3 separate regions of the Homo sapiens genome follow, and all the other regions are linked to region 3. Evidence: fine-mapped expression QTL. A gene starts in region 3. Each other region holds a variant in brackets. All regions are shown on one strand. Distances are between the middles of the regions.

The links.
Region 1: its variant is fine-mapped to the expression of FAM174B in whole blood (TOPMed, PIP above 0.99).
Region 2: its variant is fine-mapped to the expression of FAM174B in whole blood (TOPMed, PIP above 0.99).

Annotation. Positions count from the first base shown.
Region 1 is chr15:92,803,583-92,811,766 of GRCh38, forward strand. LOC124903558 (a long non-coding RNA gene) reads right to left here and starts at 6,302. Exons shown (of 2, transcript XR_007064767.1): 1 at 6,064-6,302; 2 at 4,323-5,427. RefSeq lists enhancers at 860-909, 5,181-6,031, 5,968-6,087 and a silencer at 5,568-5,807. The variant A/G (reference allele first, on the strand shown) is at 4,819.
Region 2 is chr15:92,777,311-92,785,494 of GRCh38, forward strand. LOC101926994 (a long non-coding RNA gene) reads right to left here. Exons shown (of 3, transcript XR_001751667.3): 3 at 2,756-2,916. Among named protein-coding and RNA genes, the nearest start is that of CHASERR, 100 kb to the right of the region's middle. The variant G/A (reference allele first, on the strand shown) is at 3,740.
Region 3 is chr15:92,650,842-92,659,025 of GRCh38, forward strand. It overlaps FAM174B (family with sequence similarity 174 member B), which reads right to left and starts at 4,934. Exons shown (of 3, transcript NM_207446.3): 1 at 4,475-4,934. The coding sequence starts at 4,818. RefSeq lists silencers at 4,311-4,380, 4,431-4,480, 4,581-4,780, 5,061-5,110.

The DNA of each region.
Region 1 (8,184 bases), 150 kb after region 3:
TATCACTGGGAGACCATTATTCAGCCCACCACACACATCCCCAAATCTACCAGGTTAAATGGAGGTAGATTTTTAAGCTTCCCAAGTAGCTGGGACTACAGGCATGCACCACTATGTCTGGCTAATTATTTTTATTTTTTATACAGTTGGGGTCTTGCTACATTGCCCAGGCTGGTCTTGAACTTCTAGGCTCAAGCAAACCTCCTGCCTCTGCCTTCCAAAGTGCTGGGATTACCGGTATGAGTCACCACACTGAGCAAGGGAGAAGAATTTTAAGAGTCCCTATAATAACTCCACACCTCTCTAAAAACCGCACTGCTCGCCCCTCCCCACTCCCACAGGTTTTGGAGTTTCTGACTCCTGAAAGAGAATGAGTCACAGACAGTTCCCGTCAGAAAAGACTATGTCCCTCCCACCTCTCATTTAGTTCCCGTTTGTTTAGGATTCAAGTGTCTTGGGCAGTTAGATAGCTCCCCAGCCTACCCAGTTTCCCTCTTGCCTCCCCTCTACTACCCCCAGAAATGCTTGTGCAATATTGGACTGACTCACCCAGAAATAACTCATGACTCTCCTTTGTTTACAGTTTAAGAGACTAGGGTGTTGAAATATCTCAGCAAAGGCCACTGAGGGACTCTTCAGTCCAGGGACAATGAAACACTGGACAACCTGGGAGGAGTTAGGTACATTCTCTGGCCTTCTCTCAGAGGGGCTTTTGCTGTGTTGTAACAGGCAGTGGAGTGTTGGTAAATATTTAACAAGGCATCTCCAAGGGGAAAAGCCTTAATATGTAGTGTTTACCTATTCCTGTGGTGTAAATACCCCTGCTATGGCCAGTTTCAAGCTACCAACATGATGTCATTGAAACCAAAGTTGGAAAGAAAAGTGCATCATCATTCTGAGCAGCTGACTCCAACACGCCACTGTAGCTCCACTGACCTAAGGGAAAACTGTCAGTCTTCACTCCATAAGGATGTACAGGCCCAGGGGCTGGACAATGTAGCTCTTGGAAGATCACAATAGAGTCAGTTTCCTAATTTCAGGGACCAACTGTTACTGCTAAGAATAAATGGGAGGCCAGGTGCAGTGGCTCACACCTGTAATCCAAGCACTTTGGGAGGCCGAGGCAGGTAGATCACCTGAGGTCAGAGTTCGAGACCAGCCTGACCAACAGAGTGAAACCTCGTCTCTACTAAAAATACAAAAATTAGCCAGGCTTGGTGGCGTGCACCTGTAATCCCAGCTACTCAGGAGGCTGAGGCAGGAGAATCACTTGAACCCAGGAGGCAGAGGTTGCAGTGAGCCGAAATCACACCACTGCACTCCAGCATGGGCAACAGACCAAGACTCTGTCTCAAAAAAAAAAAAAAAAGAACAAATGTGTAAAATAGTCACAGATCTTTACAATCCCATCCAGCGATGAGGTTCTAGGTACAAAACAAACATTAACATCTTTCTCCTCTGGAATCGCTTGAACCAAGGAGACAGAGGTTGCAGTGAGCCAAGATCGTGCCACTGCACTCCAGCCTGGGAATCAGAGTAAGACTCCGCCTCAGGAAAAAAAGAAAAAGAAATCTTTTTCCTCTGAACTCTCATCAAACTTCTATTTCTACATCTCTTTTGATTTTTTTTATTTATCTAACAATGACTGTGCCAAGCAATATTCCAAATAAGGTATATACCGTGACACAATCCAACCTCACAACAAGCCTACAGGCAAGTACTTTATGTATTTATTTATTTGTTTACTTATATATTTGTTGACACTGGGTCTCACTCTGTTGCCGAGGCTGGAGTGCAATGGCACCATCTGGGCTCACTGAAGCCTCGACCTCCTGGGCTCAAGCGATCCTCCCACCTCAGCACCCCCAGAGTAGCTGGGATTACAGGCACACGCTACCACACCCAGCTAATTTTTGTAATTTTAGTAGAGAGGGCATTTCACCTTGTTGCCCAGGCTGGTCTCGAACTCCTGGACTCAGGCGATCCACTGCTTCAGCCTCCCAAAGTGCTGGGATTACAGGAGTGAGCCACCAAGCCCAGCCTGGAACAAGCACTTTTTACAAATCTGTTTTACAAAGGAGCAAACTGAAGCGCTGAGAGGTTAAGTTACATGTCCAAAGTCACAAAGCCCTGAATTGCCTTTGCAATGCCCCTTAAAAAGTGGCAGAATAAATGCCCAACCCAAGAAGCTCTTCACATATTTGATTTAGATTCCACATAAAAATAAAAGCACTATGTATACATATTTACATATGGCATATTTATGATCTACTTTATAGTTATTTTGTAGCTGTTAGTAATGAAAATAAGAACAATTTTATACATCATGTGCTATGGAGAGACCACTAGACATGGTCATTGTTCAAAGGTCTAAACAGGAACTACATTTCTAAGAAATAGTTTATTTATTTTTTTTAGAGATGAGGTCTTACTATGTTGCCCAGGCTGGTCTTGACTCCTGAGCTCAAGCGATCCTCCTGCCTTGGCCTCCCAAAGTGTGGGGATTACAAGCATGAGCCATGGTGCCTGGCCCTAAGAAATAATTTAATATTTCATTATTAATAACAACACCTGAAATTTATAGAGCTTTTTTGTTTTGAGGCAGAGTCTCTGTTGCCCAGGCTGCAGTGCAGTCGCACTATCTCAGCTCACTGCAACCTCTGCCTCCTGGGTTTAAGCGATTCTCCTGCCTCAGCCTCCCAAGTAGCTGAGACTACAGGCACGTGCCACCACGCCCAGCTAATTTTTGTAGTTTTAGTAAAGATGGGGTTTCACCATATTGGCCAAGCTGGTCTTGAACTCCTGACCTCAAGTGATCTACCGGCCTCGGCCTCCCAAACTGCTGGGATTACAGGCGTGACCAACCGCGCCCGGCAGAGCATTTTATGTTTAAAACAGTTTTTCATGTGTAATCATGAGAGGATATGGAATCCGGAGCCAGTCAGACCTCAATTCAAATTCTGGTTTTAGTTCTAATACTGTTCTTAGTGTGTATGTATGTAGGTAGGCAGGTAGGTAGATCTTAGTGTGTATGTATGTAAGTAGGTAGGTAGATAGATAGATAGATAGATAGATAATTTTTATTTTTTTTGAGACGGAGTCTCCCTCTGTTGCCCAGGCTGCAGTGCAGTGGCGCAATCTCGGCTCACTGCAACCTCTGCCTCCCGTTCAAGTGGTTCTCCTGCCTCAGCCTCCCGAGTAGCTGGGACTACAAGCATGCGCCACCATGCCTGGCTAATTTTCTTTTTTTTTTTTTTTTTTTTTTTTTTTTTGGTATTTTTAGTAGAGAGGCGGTTTCACCACGTTAGCCAGGCTGGTCTGAAACTCCTGACCTCTGGCAATCCGCCCGCCTCAGCCTTCCGAAGTGCTGGGAGCCACGGTGCCCGGCCCTCACAGGCTTGAGCCACCGCACCCGGCCTTTAGAGTATATTTTAAAAATAGAGATAGGGGTCTACGTTGCCCACGCTGGTCTCAAACTCCTGAAATCAAGCGATCCTCCCACCTCGGCCTCTCAAAGCGCTGGAATTACAGGCTTGAGCCACTACGCCTAGCCCAGCATACTTTTCAACTGTTCAGTTTTACCTGGAACAAGTAATAGGTTCACATGGTCCAAATTCATAAGTTACTAAATTTTTTTTTTTTATTGAGAGGGAGTCTCGCTCTGTTGCCCAGGCTAGAGTGCAGTGGCGCCATCTCGGCTCACTGCAACCTCCACCTCCCGGGTTCAAGAGATTCTCCTGCCTCAGCCTCCCGAGCTGCTGGGACTACAGGCGCGTGCCACCACGCCCAGCTAATTTTTGTATTTTTAGTAGAGACGGGGTTTCACCATGTTGGCCAGGATGATCTCAATTTCTTTTTTTTTTTATTCAGACGGAGTCTCGCTCTGTTGCCCAGGCTGGAGTGCAGTTGCGCGATCTCGGCTCACTGCAGTCTCCGCCTCCCAGGTTCACGCCATTCTCCTGCCTCAGCCTCCAGGACTACAAGCACCCGCCACCACTCCCGGCTAATTTTTTGTATTTTTAGTAAAGACAGGGTTTCGCCGTGTTAGCCAGGATGGTCTCGATCTCCTGACCTCGTAATCCGCCCGCCTCGGCCTCCCAAAGTGCTGGGATTACAGGCGTGAGCCACCGCGCGCGGCCTCGATCTCTTGATCTTGTGATCCGCCCGCTTCGGCCTCCCAAAGTGCTGGCATTACAAACGTGAGCCACCGCGCCCGGCCACAAGTTACTAAATCTTACCAAAAAAAAAAAAAATCCCAACTCAGTCACCCTAGCAACCTACATCCTTCTCTCCCCGGAGGTAAAACTATGTTAACACCTGAATATTCTTCCAGAGATATTTTATGCATACATGGTACAAGCAAAAGGCACATACAATCGTATCATTTTACATAAATATTGGCACTCTAAATTCATGGAAAGTTTGAGCTACAGTTTCCTCTTCTATAAAAGAGTGGTAGGGAGGATTACATCACAGAATTATGCAAAATGCCATGGAATCAGCACTCAATAAAGACAAGTCTCCCTTTCCTTACCCTGAGAAGGGCTGTGAGGGAAAGGGGTCTTCAGTGTGCCTCGGAATCACCTTGCTGCCTAGTAATCACAGCTTCTCGGGCCCCACCCGCCACCGTCCTCAGAATTTCCCATTTAGAAGGTCCGGGATAGACTCCTAACACTGGCATTTCCAACGAGCTCCCCGACATTGGAGATGCTGCCTGGCTGGAGGACTATCTGAGAACCTCAATGTCTAGTGGAAACTTACGTGCCCTCGATTCCAACCAGGCTCTACCCCATGAACAAATTACTCTTGCTGAGCGCC[A/G]GTGTGAGTAGAAAGAGCTTCCATATCAAAGGCTGCTAGGAGGATTACCTAAGATAACGCAGGCCTTGCTCAAGACAAACGTTCAGGAAATCAAAATCGGTTTGGAGATGAAATGGGAAAGACAAGAGCAGCTCCAAGGAGAGAAGAACGTCCAGAAAACCAAGAAATAGGACTGGTAAAGGGTGCTGACCAGGTCCCTGGAGCTGCACCCCGCCCCGTGCGCCTCCCCAGCCCCCCGGCCGCACCGTGCCCACCCCGCGCTCGTCGTCCCCCTCGCCCCCAGCGCCACCCTGCACTGCGGACCCGGGACCGCCTGGGAAACGCCCTGGTCTGACATGGCTTGGGGCTCTGGGCAGAAGCCAGGTCTGAAAACCAAGGTTGGGGCCTCATGTGTTAGTCTGGAAGCACCAAGCACCGCATACCAAAATACCTCGAGGCAACCGTATGGCTTTTTTTTTTTTAATTAAGTTGTTCCCGGGCGGTGGCTCACGCCCGTAATCCCAGCATGTTGGGAGGCTGAGGCGGGCGCGTCCCTTGAGCACGGAAGCTGAGGCTGCAGAAGGCTGTGGTCGCGCCACTGCACTCCGGCCTGGGGGACAGAGTGAGCCCCTGTCTCAAAAATATAAAACAAAATAAAAAATTAATAATTAAATTAAATGTGTGTAAACATGTAGGTGACCTTCTAGCCCTCGGTGAACCAGACTAAAAAACGCTCCCGCACTAGGCGTGGTGCCCGGAGCGGCCCCGCCCTCGGAGCACGCTTGTGCGCCAAGGCTGGTGGCGGAACGCGGACGTGCTGCAGGCAGGGAATGAAATGGCGGAGGAAGGCGGGGCAGGGCGCGGCCGGAGCTCCGCGGCCAGCCGCCAGGGGGCAGCCGCGCGTCTGCGTCCCGCGGGCGGCTAGAACCAGTCCTGCCGGAAGTTGGGGCGGTGCCTTCGCTTCCGCGGAGCCGTGCCACGTGGCCGGCCCGGAGGGACAGGGGAAAACAACAAGATGGCGGCAGCCGGGGGCGGGGTCAGCCCGGCGTCCCTGAGGCTGCGAGCCCCTTAAAGGGCCGCGTTCGAGGAGCCGGGCGAGATGAACTGAGTGGTTTTACCCAGCCGTGGGGGCTGTTCGACTGAACATGGGCCTGGGCGGGGACAACCGCGCCAAGCGGACGCGCCCTCCGCCTGGTCGGAGTTCATCGACCCAGGCCCTGCGGGGAATCCCGCGGCGCAGTTCCGCAAAGCTGCCAGCGTGCTTACCAGTCGGGGCCCGTTTCTTTTGTCTCTGCGTTTGCTGCTCCGTGCAAACAAGGAGGACAGAAAACTCTTTATCGTGGCGTTTTCTTCCTGAGCGAGAGATTAGGTTGCTGCAAATCCAACGAGGCGAGTCCTCTTGGATCGAATTAATGCATTGGCTCTTCCCTTCGCAACAGCTTTGATGACCGTTTCCCGCCTTTGTGCAAAGCGTTAGAACAAACCCTACCTTCCTCCAAACGAAGGAGAAAAATCTCAATGATCTGGGTTTTAAAGTACCTTCCCCGCCCTGTCCAAATGCTGGAATTTTTTTTTTTTTTTTTTTTGACGGTAGATGGGAGCTGCCCTAGGACCTTGAATGTGTGCTAAAATCTGAAATTCTGTTAATTTATATCAGCCACCTTGGACACCTTTTCAGGAAATAAACATTTAGACATCGGTCGCTGTGTATTACAAAATGCAAGAAATAAAGCACAATCGTCAAGTGCTGAAGGCCCACAGCTTCCCCTTCGTGTCCACGGATCTAGTGCTGAAAGACAAACCCTTTGACTCCGCCGGGGCAGTTGGTCCAGGGTCCATTTTCATTTCTCACCGTTTTTGTTTTACATGAGTTTGAGATGCAAAAGAGCCGGTGTGGGTAAAAATAGTTAACCCCAGCTACTCAGAGTGTGATGGTATATTTAGAATAAAGGAGACATTTGTCCTTGGTTTTATTTATAAATGTGTCATCTTACATTTGGGATTCGGATTCTCTCATGCTTGCTAAGAAATTTGTGAGGCCACTGGCATGTTTCTGAAATGTGACCTTTTTCTTGCTTATTTAAAACAAAATAGTAATACTTGCCTCCCAAAGGTTTGGGAGGTTAATGTAATCAAAAAAAAAAAAAAAAGCCTGAATGTAATAAGGCTTCCAATGGAGGGCACACGACAGTGACAGCTGGGGAAAAGACATTATTTTCTTCATGAAGAGATCCCTTATGGTTTCTTCGGGCTGGTAGGGATTTTTAACACCTGTGCTGTGATCAAAATTGTATTACTATTAATGGTATAATGGTGTAATGTGAAGGGGGGCGGCGGAGGGCGTGGTCAAGCCTTCTATTATAAGGCTTAAGGGTGGATTTTTGACCCAATCAGAGGTTTAAGAGAATTTTCCTTTAGCCACTCCTTTGTGTATCCATGCCCTCTGAGGCTTCACTTCAGACTCGTCCATCGTTTGGCAAAGAAGCGGTGGAAAGAGTTTCTAAAGAATCCTTTAATCTAGAAAGGTCAGGAACCCTCCCTCCCCTCAGTCTGAGAAAAGAATGCAACTTTCCTTCATAGCATTTCCTCCAAAGGACCCTGCCCCATTTGTGTCCTTATAGTTTGCAGTGACTACCTCCTTTTTTGTCTCATTTTGTATATATGGTTCAGATAAAATATCGGACAACTTTTTCTGCAAATGCCATTGGCATACCGGAGCACAAGCTTCAGAGTACAGCCTCAGGTCTTAAGTTGTCTCCAGACTTTCATTAACATAGGCTTCCTGTTACAAAAGAGAAAATGTATTTTAAATTTTAAAATACCTTATTCTAAGAACTTCAGTTAAAAAAAAAAGAAAAAATTTAAAAGAACCCATACTCTAATAATGCAGTCACTCGTTCTTAGACTAGACTTAAGTTTGTTTTGGGGGGATTATACTGTGTGTACAATTTGTTATCTTGTTTACTTAACGTTTGGAAATTACTGTTATATTTCATATTACTGAAGCAAATTGTGCTCAACAGAAAACATGAAAAATACAAAGAAAATCACCCAAAATGTGACTACCAAGAAATAACCACTATTAAGCTAATCATCTGTACAACTGTATTTGTCTTAAAATAATACTAGACATAGTTTTATAACCTACATTTTGTATTTACGTATAATGTACTTTTTTATATCAGTAAGAATTTTCATGAGTTTTACAGTCTGCACAGTATTCCAGCAGATGAGTATGCCGTAGTTAACCATTAACAGTTCTCTTATTGGACACCAGATTTGTTAAATAGGTTTTGGGTTTTGTTTTGTTTTGTTTGAGACAAGGTGTTGCCCAGGTGAGATCATAGTGCGCTACAGCCTAAAACCCCTGGGCTGAAGCAATCCTCC
Region 2 (8,184 bases), 130 kb after region 3:
AGTCCCAGCACTTTGGGAGGCCAAGGCGGGCGGATCACGAAGTCAGGAGATCGAGACTATCCCGACCAACATGGTGAAACCCTATCTCTACTAACAATACAAAAATTAGCCTGGTGTGGTGGTGCATGCTGGTAATCCCAGCTACTCAGGAGGCTGAGGCACAAGAATCGCTTGACCCCAGGAGCTGAGATCATGCCACTGCAGTCCAGCCTAGCAACAGAGTAAATAAATAAATAAATAAATATAATAATAATATATTATTATATGTAATATAATAATATATTATTATATATTATATTATATGTAATATATTATATTATATATTATATTATATGTGATATATTATATTATATATTATATTATATGTGATATATTATATTATTATATATTATATGTGATATATTATATTATTATATATTATATTATATGTGATATATTATATTATTATATATTATATTATATGATATATTATATTATTATATATTATATTATATGTGATATATTATATTATTATATATTATATTATATGTGATATATATTATTATATATTATATGTAATATATTATATTATATGTAATATATTATATTATATTATATGTAATATATTATGTTATATTATATGTAATATATATAATATATATTTTATCATATATTTTATCATATAGTATATTTTATCATATATTTTATCATATTTCATCATATAACATATTTTATTATATATAATGTCATAATATATTTTATTATATATGTCATAATATATTTTATTACATATAATGTCACAATATATTTTATTACATATAATGTCACAATATATTTTATTACATATAATGTCACAATATATTTTATTACATATAATGTCACAATATATTTTATTATATATAATGTCACAATATATTTTATTATATATAATGTCACAATATATTTTATTATATATAATGTCATAATATATTTTATTATATATAATGTCAATATATTTTATTATATATAATGTCACAATATATTTTATTATATATAATGTCATAAGATATTATATATAATGTCATATTTTATTATATATGTCATAATATATTTTATTATATATAATGTCATAATATATTATTCTTCCATGTATATGTTGTTTTACGCAAAAAGCAGAGGAAAAATATATTTTGTATTGATTTGTATAGGCACAAAAATACCTTTGGGGCAAGATAGGAAGTGGGCATATGTGCGGTAGGGTAAGGATGGAGAAAAGAACTTCCCCATATACCTTTGGCTTTTTTTTTTTTTTGAGACAGAGTCTCACTCTGTCACCCAGGCTGGAGTGCAGTCGCATGATCATGGCTCACTGCAGCCTCGAACTGCTGGGCTCCAGTGATCCTCCCACCTCAGCCTCCCCAGGTGCTGGCACTACAGACATGTGCCACTACACCCTTGCAATTTTTTTTTTCACAGTGAAAGATTTTACTTTATTTTTTTTTACTTTCATCCAAACATACCCTTTTCTGAAAAACATAAAAGCATGCACATCAATGGCATCCCTGTAAAGAAAAAATAATAATTAAGCTGTAAATCAATAATAATAATACAAACTTTTAAATGATATGTGAAAAGATTTACAGGTAGTCATAGGGCTCTTAATTTTAGAAAATAATAATTCAAGTGAATATCAATACAGGTTAGGGAGAAGCTTTTTTTTTTTTTTTTTTTTAGATGGTGTCTCTCTCTTGTTGCCCAGGCTAGAGTGCAATGGTGCAATGGCACGATCTCGGCTCACTGCAACCTCTGCTTCCCAAGTTCAAGTGATCCTCCTGCCTCAGCCTCCTGAGTAGCTGAGATTACAGGCATGCACCACCACACCCCGCTAATTTTGTATTTTTGGTAGAGATGAGGTTTCTCCATGTTGGTCAGGCTGGTCTCAAACTCCCGACTTCAAGTGATCTGCCTGCCTTGGCCTCCCAAAGTGCTGGGATTACAGGTGTGAGCCACCGCTCCCAGCCTGCAAACATTTTGATACAAAATACTTTTCAGCAATAATATTTTATAGACCTTTTGTGAGAAGAATATTAGTATAGTCCTAAGAAATACAATATTCAAGTCTTTTTTTTTTTTTTTTTGAGATGGAGTTTCACTCCTGTTGCCCATGCTGGAGTGCAATTGTGTGATCTCGGCTCACCACAACCTCCGCATCCTGGGTTCAGGTGATTCTCCTGTCTCAGCCTCCCGAGTAGCTGGGATTACAGACATGCACCACCACGCTTGGCTAATTTTTTATATTTTTAGTAGAGATGGGGTTTCTCCATGTTGGTCGGGCTGGTCTCAAACTCCCAACCTCAGGTGATCTGCCCGCCTCAGCCTCCCAAAGTGCTGGGATTACAGGCATGAGCCACCACGCCTGGCCTCAAGTTATCTTACGCAGGTCAGGTACTGGTTACGCACGTCCGTGTAAAGAGACCACCAAACAGGCTTTGTGTGAGCAATAAAGCCTTTTAATCATCTGGGTGCAGGCCGACTGAGTCCAAAAAAGGAGTCAGCAAAGGGAGATGGGGTGGGCCAGTTTTATAGGATTTGGGTAGGTAGTGGAAAATTACAGTTAAAGGGGGTTTTTCTCTTGTGGGCAGGGGCAGGGGTCACCAGGTGCTTGGTGGGGAGCTCCTGAGACTCAGTCCAGGAGAAGGAATGTCACGAGGTCAGTTGTTCAGTTAGGGTGGAGCAGGAACAAATCACAAGGGTGGAATGTCATCAGTTAAGGCAGGAACTGCCTATTTTGCTTCTTTTGTGGTTCTTCAGTTGCTTCAGGTCATCTGGATGTATACATGCAGGTCACAGGGGTTATGATGGCTTAGCTTGGGCTTAGAGGCCTGACAGTGCCCTTGTTAAAATGAGTTAGAACCTACATAATCCCAGTAGCATTGCCTCTTTAAATGTACAGCATATCTATGATATTCAAAATAAACACAGACATGGGATTGATCTAAATTTTACTTTACAGGTAAAAGAAAATTACAATTCAGCATGAGAACATTCTTCATAAGTTTTACCTATGGCCCCAATGATAATTAGGCCAACTGTATCCTGAGTGTATATGAATGTGTGAATACATACACATACTAATGTATACAAACCAATTCACACAACACGACTCTCCAGAGATGTTGCTTGAAGCACCAGAGAGTAATTTCTTTATTTTTAGTTTTGAAGAGACAGGGTCTCACTAGGTTGCCCAGGCTGGTCTTGAACTCCTGGCCTCAAGTGATCCTTCTGCCTCAGCCTCCCAAAGTGCTGGGTTTACAGGTGGGAGCCACTACACCTGGCCGCCTTTTGTATTTTTTAAAGCTTGAAGCACATATGTGTATTACTTATTAAAAATTTAACAAAGAATTTTAAAAAGAGAAAGAAAGGCCTTTTAGAGGATAGGTCATTTTAGGACTCCCTGGTTCCAAGATATAACTCAATTGTCCTGTAATGAGATAGATACTTCCTGAATCTATTGGGGTTTAAGATTAAAAAAAAAAAAAAAAAAGACGTTCTCTTATTCAGACCCATTTATATAGTTCTCATTGCCTTTTCTCATTATGCTCCTGAGGCTCATTTGAAGCTAACACTCAAGCACCAGTGACATCTGGTAACATGGGTAACCCTGGGCAACCAGCTTCTCTCATAGTTGTCATAGCAACAATGATGTTCTGACAGCTGAGTTTTCATCGTGAAGTAATTATCAAGCTTTGGGGAGGGCTCCTCCATGTTTGCAGTTGTTTAC[G/A]TCAATGAGGTTTATGAATGAACCTCAATTAGATGCAATTTTGATTGAAGTGTTAAGAGAGGCTGTGAATTGAGTCAGATTTACATATCCTTCCACCCAGCCTGGCAAATCTGGTGAATTGTAGGCCTGGTGCAATTCAGAGAGGGGGTGTGACTTGCACTTCAGCCATCAAAAGCCACTGGATATGCGAGGCTTGGTGGCTCATGCTTGTAATCCCAGCACTTTGGGAGGCTGAAGTGATCACCTGAGGTCGGGGGTTCGAGACCAGCCTGGCCAACATGGCGAAACTCCGTCTCTACTAAAAACACAAAAAAAGGCCAGGCACAGTGGCTCACACCTGTAATCCCAGCACTTTGGGAGGCCGAGGTGGGCGGATCACCTAAGCTCAGGAGTTCGAGACCAGCCTGACCAACATGGTGAAACCCTGTCTCTACTAAAAATACAAAAATTAGCAGGCATGGTGGCACACGCCTGTAGTCCTAGCTACAGGGGAGGCTGAGGCAGGAGAATCCCTTGAACCCAGGAGGCAGAGGTTGCAGTGAGCTGAGGTCACGCTACTGCACTCCAGCCTGGGCAACAGAGTGAGACTCCATTTCAAAAAAAAAAAAAAAATTAGCTGGCTGTGGTGGACATGCCTGTAATCCAAGCTACTCGGGAAGTTGAGGAATGAGAATCTCTTGAACCTGGGAGGCGGAGGCTGCAGTGAGCCGAGACTGCACCACTTCACTCCAGCCTGGGCAACAGAGCAATACTCTGTCTCAAAAATAAATAAATAAAAATGTTTTTTTAAAAAGCCACTGGAAGGCTGAAGACCTGGCACGTTCCAACCTGAGATGAACAGTTTCTTCTCTATCCTCTGTTCCCCCACCCAACCACAAGTAGCAGGAACAGACCCAGCAGGTCCTTGATTTCAACCCAGCATATAAAACAAAAGTTCTGATTTGTCAAAACTTTGTAAAACCCATATGTCTATATAATTAGCCCCATTTCACACTGGCGAAACCTCGGGTTTAGACTGCTCAGACTCTTTCCGCTGGACAGCAGTGAAGTCAGGACTCACAGCCACATCTCAGCTTCTTCCACTTCTGCCACCTGCTCAGAGCCAGGAATAAATATTTCTTTGGGTTATCTGGAAAGTGACACTGAGCCTTTCTTACGTCCACAAGCCTTTGTTAAAAGAACAAGTGCTTCTGCATCTATCAGCCAAAGTCAGTAGAAGTGGCTTGGTTCTGGCAGCCAAGAACCCAGCTTGTTGGTGACAAGCTCCTGGTGACACATATGAACTCTTAACCTCTGATTTGAGTGAGGAATTGTAACCAAGTGCCCCTCATTTTTCTAAGAGATAGTTTGTTTCTCTCCCTTCTTTTCTCATTCCCCTGGTTCCCCACTTCCCACTTAGTCCCTTAGAAATGCAAATATAGGCCAGGTGCGGTGGCTCACGCCTGTAATACCAGCACTTTGGGAGGCCGAGGCAGGTGGATCACCTGAGGTCAGGAGTTCGAGACCAGCCTGACAAAAATGGTGAAACCCTGTCTCTACTAAAAATACAAAAAATTAGCCAGGTGTGGTGGCGCATACCTGTAATCCCAGCTACTCAGGAGGCTGAGGAAGGAGAATCACTTGAACTCGGGAGGCGGACAGTGCGGTGAGCCGAGATTGCACCATTGCACTCTAGCCTGGGCATGAAGTGTGAAACTCCCTCTCAAAAAAAAAAAAAAAAATGTCCGGGCGCGGTGGCTCACGCCTGTAATCCCAGCACTTTGGGAGGTCGAGGCGGGCGGATCACGAGGTCAGGAGATTGAGACCATCCTGGCTAACACGGTGAAACCCCATCTCTACTAAAAATACAAAAAATTAGCCGGGCCTGGTGGCGGGCTCCTGTAGTCCCAGCTACTTGGGAGGCTGAGGCAGGAGAATGGCGTGAACCCAGGAGGCAAAGCTTGCAGTGAGCCGAGATCACGCCACTGCACTCCAGCCTGGGCGACAGAGCGAGACTCCTCCGTCTCAAAAAAAAAAAGAAAAAAAAGAAAAGAAAAGAAAGTTAACAGTAGCTTCAAACAATAGCCAAGGAAGTTAGAGTCACAAGGTGTTGGTTCCCTACGTAACAACTTAACATATGTCCCTGAGTTTTTCAGAACTCCCACCAAATGGATCCGCTGGCACGTAGACCTCAGCTAAGGGGCAAACTGAGGACTGCACTTTGACTACCATTCTTTGTCCTGAAGTTCTTCCTGAGAGGCCTGGAGGAAGTCACACCCACAAGGCAGTGCTCACATCTTCTGCTGCTGACCCCAGCTTTTTAAAGAAAGCTTCTCCTCCTCAACCAACTACAAATCAGAAAATCTTTGAATCTACCTAGGACCTCTAAGCACCACCCTCTAACCCTGCTTCGAGATATTCCATCTTCTAAGGCCAAACCAATGTATAATCTCCATGTATTCATTTACAATTTTGCCTGTAACTTCTCCTTTCCTGAAATTTTCCCCTGCTTTTAAAAACCTTTGCTTACAAGCCATCAGGAAGTTTGGATCTTAAGCATGAGCTGCCTGATTCTCCTTGCTTGGTGCCCTGCAATAAATGATTCACTTTCATTTGCTGCAATCCCAATATCACTGTTTCGCTTTGCTGCATACACACACACACACACACACACAAACCACAAAGAACGAAAGAAAAAACAGTGTAAAAAAATGTAAAATTTTTTTAAGAGAAAATCTAGCGTGTATATATTTTATATAATATTTTTGTTTAACTATATATACAGACATATATATGTTACATGTGTGTATTACATATATACATATGTTATATGTGTGTGTTACATATATACATATGTTATATGTGTGTTACATATATACATATATATGTTATATGTGTGTGTTACATATATACATATATATGTTATATGTGTGTATTATACATATTTTGGGGGCAAGGGGGTCTCGCTCTGTTGCCCAGGCTGAAGTACAGGGGTGCAATCATGGCTCACTGCAGCCTCAACCTCCCTGGCTCACTTAATCCTACTGCCTTAGCCTCCCAAGTATCTGGGACTACAGGCACACACCACTGCACCCAGCTAATTTTTGTTTATTTTTTTTTTGGTAGAGACGGGGTCTCACTATGTTTCCCAGATTGGTCTCAACTCCTGGCTCAAGCAATCCTCCTGCCTCTGCCTCCCGAAGGCTGGGATTACAGGGGTAAGCCACTATACTCGGCTGCAAATATATATATATTTTTGAGACAGAGTCTCGCTCTGTCTCCCGGGCTGGAGTGCAGTGGTGCGATCTCAGCTCACTGCAGCCTCTACCTCCTGGGTTCAAGTGATTCTCCTGCCTCAGCCTCCTGAGTAGCTGGGACTACAGGCTTGCACCACGACGCCCGACTAATTTTTGTATTTTTAGTAGAGACAGGGTTTCACCATGTTGGCCAGGATCGTCTCGATCTCTTGATCTCATGATCCGCCCGCCTCGGCGTCCCAAAGTGCTGGGATTACAGGCGCGAGCCACCGCACCCAGCAAGCTGCCAATATTTTTTAATTAAAGCTTTATTGGTAGCTTAAAGGTTTGTACACCTAGGCCAATGTACTATCGTTAGATTCAGGATAGACAAGAGTTAGGAAAAGGGAGATTATGAAAGAAGTGGGAAAGGAAACTGCAACTTTATCGCAGGAGAGTTCCCAAGGCAGATCAATTTTAGAAAAGAGTGCATATAAATATAGGAGATTTGGGCCAGGCGCTGTGGCTTATGCCTGTAATCCCAGCACTTTGGGAGGCTGAGGCAGGCAATTCACATAAAGCCAGGAGTTCGAGACCAGCCTGGCCAACGTGGCAAAACCCCGTCTCCACTAAAAATACAAAAAAAATTAGCCAGGTGTGGTGGTGGACACCTGTAATCCCAGCTACTCAGGAGGCTGAGGCAAGAGAATCACTTGAATCTGGGAGGTGGAGGTTGTAGTGAGCCAAGATCACGCCACCACACTACACCCTAGGTGACAGCAAGACTGTCTCAAAAAAAAAAAAAAGGAGATTTGGAAATGTATTTCCTTAAAACAAATCCACATACACCTTGCAGAATGCATACACATAAATACTCCAATTTGAAGATGCTGATCTAAAACATTCTAAGGTCTATCTGAAAGAACTTAGAAATTCATTAATCTTAAATTTTATTTAGTATGTACCTCAGAATAACTAAGGTAACCACCAAAAGAATAGATATTCTTATAGAGACATAGAATAGTTATTCTAAGAAGAAAAAACTAGAAGAAGAGGAAAAACAAAACCATTAATCAGCCAAGAGGTAGGTGGTGGTGGAAGAGAAGAGCAAACAGAAAAAGCAGAAGAAATACAATAGACTATAATAAGGTGGTAGAAAATAAATCCAAATAAATCAACAATTGCAGTAAACTTAAAGGGAAAAACTTTCAAATTAAAAGGCAAAGATTT
Region 3 (8,184 bases):
ACCCAGGGGGTTCACCACACCAGGTACCTGTAGGACCACTCTCACACATGTGAAGGTACCCAACAAAGGGCCCTCGGTCTCCAGCCAGCTTTCCCTCCTTCCGATTTTTGTCTCCTGTCTAAAAATGGTTTGCCTTAATGATGAAATACATTTAAAAAGGTGGACGTGATTCTACAGATGGGGAAATCAGATTGATTAAGGAGAACATTTGGAAGAGACAGAGGCTCAACTATGGTAGAAAATGAAGAAATACAAAATAAAGCAATGAATACCAAATTATACCCATCAGATTGGAAAGCATTAGAAAGTAAGATAATACTAAGTGTTGGATATGATGTGAGAATCTGAGAACCCTCAGGCTCTGCAGATGGAAACCTACACTGGTGCCTGCTCAAGGAAATCAAGAATGAGCACCCCCTAGGATCCAGAAGCCCCACTCCCAGGTGTACACCCCAGATGCTCTCATACTGGTCCTCAGAAAGACACATCCAAGAATGCGGCCAGGAGCTGAGTATACACACAGGGATACTCAACATACACACATCATAACTACATGCTTCTGGATTGTAAAAGAATTCAAACTATGCAGAAACATATCGTGAATAATAAAAAAATATGATAATCACCCACATGCACAGACACACAGATTTATCTGCACATTCGTATATACATGTTTATAATTTATTTAAATGAGCTAATACTATACATGTCACTTTGTGACCTGTTTCAGACTCAAAAATATATAGCAAGTATTATCTCAATGTCATCATTTTGAACAGCTGCACAGTATTCTGCCATAAAGATTGCCATGATTTGCTTAACCAATGCCCAGTTGTTGGACACTTGGATTATTTAAACCTTTTCACTATCAAACAGAGCTTCTCTGAATATCATTGCACTTGCATCTTGGCTTTCTCTTCTAATCATTCACATTAGAAGCAAAGAATATATAGTGCAGTGGAAAATGTACATACTTTAAGAATGGAATCACTTGATTAAAAGTATACATCTTTTTCATTAAAAGACACATTCTTTGCTTCTAATTTCCTTGGATCCAATTTTTTTCTGTTGTCTGGTAAGGTGACTCCTTCAGAGAAAACAGAGAAATAGGCTAGGACTGCCATTTTATACGCAATCATACTTACTACACTCTCCTTTATCTACATTGTACAAATTCCTACCTCGCAGGTATCCAGCATCAGTCATGCAGCTAGTCTAGCACATTTTGAGAGACATCAGCAATGTAAAATCCTTGAGAGCTCAACATTCTTTTGCTAAAAATATCTTTATTAAATGCCAGCTTGTGCCTGGAACCACACTAGGTATTAGGGAAACACAGAAGATTAATGCCTAGTCCTGCTCAGAAGAAGTTCGGTGGCACTTGACTCTGAAGAGGGAATTCAAAAATCGAGTGTGCTTTGGAAGCACAGAGGGGCCCTAGCTGCAGAGGCTTCTCAGAGGAGGCAACAGCAACGAGGTCAAACAGCACCGAACTGACCACGCAGTCTTAGTGACAGAGGGGACTCCAGGCAGAGGGGTAGAGTGGGACAAGATGCTCAGGCCACGCAGTGCCTCCAGAGAACCCCAGGAAGTCCAGCAAAGCAGGAGGCGCACTGAGCAGAGCCGAGATGGGGGCTCAGGAGGGAGGCAGCACCCTGATCTGAAGAGTCAGCCTTGCCCACACATCAAGGAGTCTGTATGCAGGGAGAATTGGCAGGGAGGGGTAGAAGAAGGATGAGACAGGCATTCCTGCAGTTGAGGGAGGACAGACTGGAGAGGGACAAGGTTGGAGGCACGAACCCCAGCTTAACAGATATTATTGCAATTCAGGAGCGACAAGGTAGAAACGGCGGCAGGTGGCGAAGCTTCACTGGGGAAGGTGGTGTGGGCAGAGGTGAGACAGTCTCTTGGAGACTCAGGTGGTGGAATTTCCAGGACTCGGTGCCCGCAGGCTAAGGAGTTGCAGAGGGAGAAAGGAAGGAGGGCCCCCAGCCAGCAGAGCAGGCATTTGGTTAGCTGACTAACCAAGGTTACAGGGGAGCGTGGGACAGGGGAAAGGCCACAGTACAGACCGAATAGCACAGATGAGGTGCTGGCCCTGCCTTGGCTACACAGACTTGCAGAGTGTTCTAGAATCTAGCAATGACTTATTCCACTTCCTGGGATGCAACTTTCTCAACTGCAAAGAAACACATGGGGACTGTGCACCATCAGGGCCCTTGCAAGCTGTAAAATATTACAAAGTCCTCTCTAGATCAGAATCTGGGGTGGCAGCTGTCCACCTGAAAACTCACCCTAACAAGATTGCCTTCCTGGGAAGAGACGCAGATCATGTCCATAACCAGCTTCTCCTATGAAGTCGTAAACTTCTTTCAACACTCCACACCCAAGCTACTAAAGACCCATCTCTTCCAGGCTAGAGTGCTGGCTTACCCACTCCAACATGAGTCTCGCACCCCTCACATCTGGGTGCATGCTGCCTTCTTTTCTCCCCTACTCCTGAGTAATAAACAGCAGACTAGCAAAATTGTTCAAATACCTTCTAAAAAAAATACACAGCCTTGTGGACTCCAGGGCCTATTTTGAGCTAAATGTTTCAAACCTCCAGACTCAGAGCTGCTCTAGGCATTAACCTTCACTCCAACTGAACAATCAGGAAGTCCGTAGATGACAATGGCACCTCTGCTGAATGGCAGGCCCGCATCGGGCATGGAGACACGAAGATGAACTGGACTTCCCAACCTCAAGGGCCCTCTGCTGAGTGCAGAAGCCAGCATGGCATGGTTGGACTGAAGGATGCACAGATTAGGGATGAGGAGGTCAGAAAATAGTGACAGCCTCATTCAAATGTCCAGGAAAACTATACAGAGGAAGGAGGATGGGAGCTGGGCCTTGGTGGCTGCACGCACTTGTAGAATATAGAGGCAAGAATTAGGCTAGAAGCGGGAAACCACAGAGCATAAGGAGCAAGTGACAAGGTACTAGGCTCAGAAGCGCTGGTTGATGTCTGCGTTGCAGACGGGGGCCAGCTTGCAAGGGCCCCAAATGCCACACCCAGGTATTGCCATGCCTAGGTAGTGGCCACAGAGAGCTGCTAGAGTTTGTAAACAGAGGATTGAGGCCAGTGGGTAGAGTGGGAAGAAGACAGGAGCATTTCAACCCAGAGAACATCAAGGAGACCAGCAGAGTGAGGAACGATGTGGCCTGAGACAAGGCAGGGAATGGTGAGGTGAGCGTGGGACCATACTTCCCCTTTCTCCATTTTCTCAGACCACTGGCATCTAATCCTACAGACACAGAAGAAAACACCTGGACTCAAAGTCACACACAACTGACAGCAAAGCTCAATACATAGATGGCTCCTAACTCTGCCTTTTCCTGGTCTGGTTTCTGCTGTTGCACTGAAAATGCTACCAGGAGAGCAAGCCCTGAAGCCCAACCTGCCACAGCTGATCAAACACCAAAGCACTGTGTGTACGCTTGGAAGCAGAGGGAGGCAGCAGTGAACAGCTGACACACACACCCAGACTTCCAGGCGGGCCTCAGTAACAGGACAGGTTTGGTTCATTTCCTGCAAAAACAGGATTTCCCAGGCATTAAAGGAAATGTCCTTGCATTCCTCTTAGCCCTGTCCACCAGGATGGACAGGGATCAAGGACCTGGGACATCCTTCCTAATTTACCAGACACTTTATCCCTGAACGTGAGCAACCTACAAAAGGCTCTCCAAGATCCCTCATGCCCCTGTGAATGTTCATCTAGCGCAACTTAGGCAGGAGCCTAGGAAAGCCGTCTGTGTCCCCCACCAACAGAAAATAAGGGAGGCCACCAAGGGTCGCCTAGAATCCTGAAGCTCAGCTCCAACCCCTGGTGCAAAGCACCCCTCCAGCGTAATTCTGGAGGCAATTCTACTACCCCCCACACTAGAAACTGCTTCTTTCAGTAGCAAAAAAAAAAAAAAGAAGAAGAAGAAGAAGAAGAAAAAGTAGGCGGGGCGTGAGGGAGCTGCAGATGGTAGAAGGGAGAGGGAGTAGCGAGATTAAAGTTAGACAGGCCTGGGTTCAAGTCCTACCTCCACCACTGAGTTTACCTTAGATGAGCCATTTTGCCTCTCTGAAAATGTTTTCCTCATCTGTGAAATGATTATAAAAATAAATTATGGGAAACGCTGTCAGAATTCAGAGCGCTATTGTTAGTGTTCAGCATTAGCAGAAAGCCAACAAATGGGAACCACATATTTATTTTATATATATAGTTAAAGAGAGGAAAGAAAATTCCTAAAACATGTACCAGGAAAATCCAGACGAGCACACCCCGGCCCCCCACCCACTCTCCCGGGCAGGGCAGGAGGCACACGGCTGGCTGGGGCGCACCAGGGCACCTGTGCGTGCAGGTGGGGCGGGCGCGCGGCGACAGCAGGTTGGCGATGCCGCCCTGTCGGCCGGCGGGGGAAGGAAGAGGGCGGGAGGGCCCACCTGAAGACGCGCAGCAGCAGGCAGGCGATGAGGAGGGTGGTAAAGGCGAACGCCACGATCACGGCTGCCTTGAGGGTGGGTAGGTCGCGGAGGAGGATGGAAATGCGGGTCACCAAGGCGTCGCCACTGCTGTTGGAGCTGGAGCTGCCGCTGCCGCCCGCCGCCCCAGACCCAAACCGGGTGGTGTTCCCGGGCCCCGGGCCGGGCGGTGGCCGCGACTCGCGCTCGGGTTCGGGCCACGGCGCGGAGACGGACTCGGCTCTGCTGGCGCGGGCGGCGGGAGCGGCCAGGAGCGCGAGCAGCAGCAGCGGCAGGAGCGGGGCGGGCAGCGGCACGGCGCGCATAGTGCGGTGGGTCGGCACAGGATCGGGCAGGGCGCGCGCGGCTGAGCTCCAGGATCCGCACCAGCACGGAGGCCTGCACCGGGGGATCCTGCGGCGGAGGCGGCTGCGCGGTGCTTGGCAGGAAGCTGCGGCGCCCGGAAGAGCCCGCGCCACCGCCGCCGCCACCACCAACACGTTGCAAGGAGTCATTCGACGGGCCGCGGCCCCACGTGGGCGGGGCAGGCCACCCGGCCTGGGTCCCGGCTGCGCTCCGCTCGCCCGCGACCCCAATTCCTCGGGACTTGAGACCCCGTGGTGAAGCAGCAACTGCCACGATGACACTTGGGCTGGCCCTGTGTTACACGTTTCACGTGTTTTATTTATTTCATTTAATTCTACAACCCCCTTTGAAGACAGGTATTCTGTTACCCACATTTGATAGCTGACTTGGCACCCAAAGAGCCAGCTCACAGCAACCCACATTGTGTCAGACTAAGAATCAAAAACTATGGGACCTAGAAGTAGACTCCCATCTTGCAGATCAAAAACTGAAGCCGACAGTGAAGTGGTTGCCTGATGTCCTATGCAACGCATAATTTCAGTATCTCCCCTAATTTCCCTCTTTCTCAAAAGGGGTTTCTTATTTCATGCGCCTCTGCTTACGAACCGGACTGGGATGTGAATCTCTGCCTCTCATACCTTTGTTGTGGAACACCAGTTGGTGTGGTTAATGCCCCCCTGCCTGGCTGAAGTTTCTCCGGGGAATAATTGGCTTGCTGCCTCTGGTTTGTAAGCTAAATGATGCTTAGGTGGAGAAAGACAATTAAGGAAGTTCTAGTGGGAGGCCCAAAGGTGGAAACTGATGGGGACACAGAGCCCCTACCTGAAGTACTAGGAGCCATTCCCAGGGCTTCAGGGTTCCCCTTTTACACTGCAGATGGGTCCTGGCAGGAAGCTTTTCGGTGGTGGGTAAACAGTTAAATACACATGACATGACAAGGTCCCAGGGACCTTAAACAGCCCATTTCTGGTCCTGCTGGAAAAAGAGACAAATATAGTACAGTGTATTAGTTGTCTACTGCAGCATAACAAATTGCCCTAAAACCTAGCTGCTTAAAACAACATGCATTTAGTATCTCACAGTCTGTGGGTCAGGAAACTGACCATAGGTTACCTGGGTTCTCTGCTTCAGAGCCTCTCCCAAAGGTGCAATCAAGGTGTCAGCTGGGGCTGGGGTCTCCTCTGAAGGCTCAACTGGGGAAGGATCTGCTTCCAAGCTCAATCAGCATTTTTTGGCCAGATTCAGCCCTGCACTGGCTGTTGGACTGGAGCCTCAGTTTCCTTGGGGCAGTTGGCCAGAGGTTGCCCTCAGTTCCTTGGCATGGGGCCCTTCCAACATAGCAACTTGCTTCATCAAAGTATGCAAGTCAAGATAGCAATAGAAAGAGTCACCTACCAAGACAGAAGTCACTGTCTTATGAAACCTCATCACAGAAGTGACATTCTCACACCTTTGTCATATTCTATCAGTTAGAAGCAAGTCACAGGTTTTATCCACACTCAAGGAGAAGGAATTACACAACAGTATGAATATCAGGAAGCAGGGATCATTGGGGCCATCCTAGAAGCTGCCTGCCACCTACAGTGTAATTCATTTTGATCTGGGGGGATGGACAACAATCAGATTATCAGAAGTCATCATCCAGAAGGTACTTCTGAAATGCATGTTAAATATGCATTCCATGTTAAATATGCCCCAGTGATAAGAGATATGGATAGATCACATGATTTAGGTCTCTTCTAACTCTGAAATATCACCTTCTGGTATGTTAAAAATGTTGCATTAGTAGAGAGTCAACATCATCATATCAGTATGATAGAATATATAAAAGTAAGTTTTTAAAGAAACACCTCTGATTCCATGATTTTGGAGAACTGTTCTCCAAGGCATAAACCTCAGCTATCACAGCCTCTTATTTTTGTACTTATCAGAAATTCCTGCACGATACAGCAAAGAGGTCCTGGGCTTTGAGCCTCTTAGCCAGGATGAAAGGTTTGACCACTGAATGGCCTTGGCCAAGTATTTAACCACTGAATACCAGGTTTTTAATATCTGAAATAGGCTGGGCGTGGTGGCTACGCCTGTAATCCCAGCACTTTGGGAGGCCAAGGTAAGTGGATCACCTGAGGTCAGGAGTTCGAGACCATGGTGAAACCCCGTCTCTACTAAAAATAAAAATTAGCTGGGTGTGGTGGTGCATATCTGTATTCCCAGCTATTCGGGAGGCTGAGGCAGGAGAATCGCTTGAACCCGGGAGGCAGAGGTTGCGGTGAGCCAAGATCGCGCCATTGCACTCCAATCTGGGCAACAAAAGCAAAACTCTGTCTCAAAAAAAAAAAAAAAATCTGAAGTAGGGACAAATAGTACCCAGCTCAAGGCCACTGGAAGCTTCCATAGGACAGAGAAAATATTAGTGCTGTTTTCCTTATTTTGCCACAATTTGTGGACTGATGGTCTACATCAGTCATTAAACAATGCTTGATTGTTTAATGCTAACATCAAGAATGTAGAAAGCATAAATGTTAGACTTTTTTCATAACGTGAAACTTTAGAATCTTTCCTTCTAATCATTTGCTTACTTAAAAATTGCCCTCAATTAGAGTTCTTTAAAAACATTTTAATTCAAATAACCATAAACAAGGACATTTTTAACATGGTAAACGGGCAACAAAACCAAATCTGGTTGATTTCAGAGAAGGGGAGATTATTGGAAGCATGTCATGTTGCTTCCAGAATTGACTGTAAGCCAAAGCAGAAGTTCTAACAGTGGGATTTGTGGACTCCTGGGGTCTCTGAGACCCTTTCAGGGAATCTTCAAAGTGAAAACTAATTCAATAATGATAATAAGATGTTATGTGTCTTTTTCACTATGTTGACATTTGCACTAATAGTGCAAAAGCAACAGTGAGGAAAACTGATGGTGCCTTAGCACAAATCGAGGTACACAATATTCATAGTCGCTGTATTCTTCACAACTATACACTATAGGAAAAAAAAAAATCAGTTTCACTTTAGAATGCCCTTGAGGTAGCCATTAAATTATTAAATCTTGACCTTAAGATCATTTTAATATTATACATGATAAAATGGGAAATAGGAATAAATCACTTCTGCTGTACATTCATGCATAATGACTGACTCAAGAAAAAGCATGTTTACAATTCCTAGAGTTGCAAACTGAACTAGCCACTTTTTTCACGGAAGACCATTTTTAATCAAGAGAGTGACTGACAAACTTTACACTTGGTCTTTGGCAGGCATTTTCTCAAAAATGAGCAAAATGAGGCTGTCATTTCAAGGACACCCACTGCCAGTATTGTAGCCAA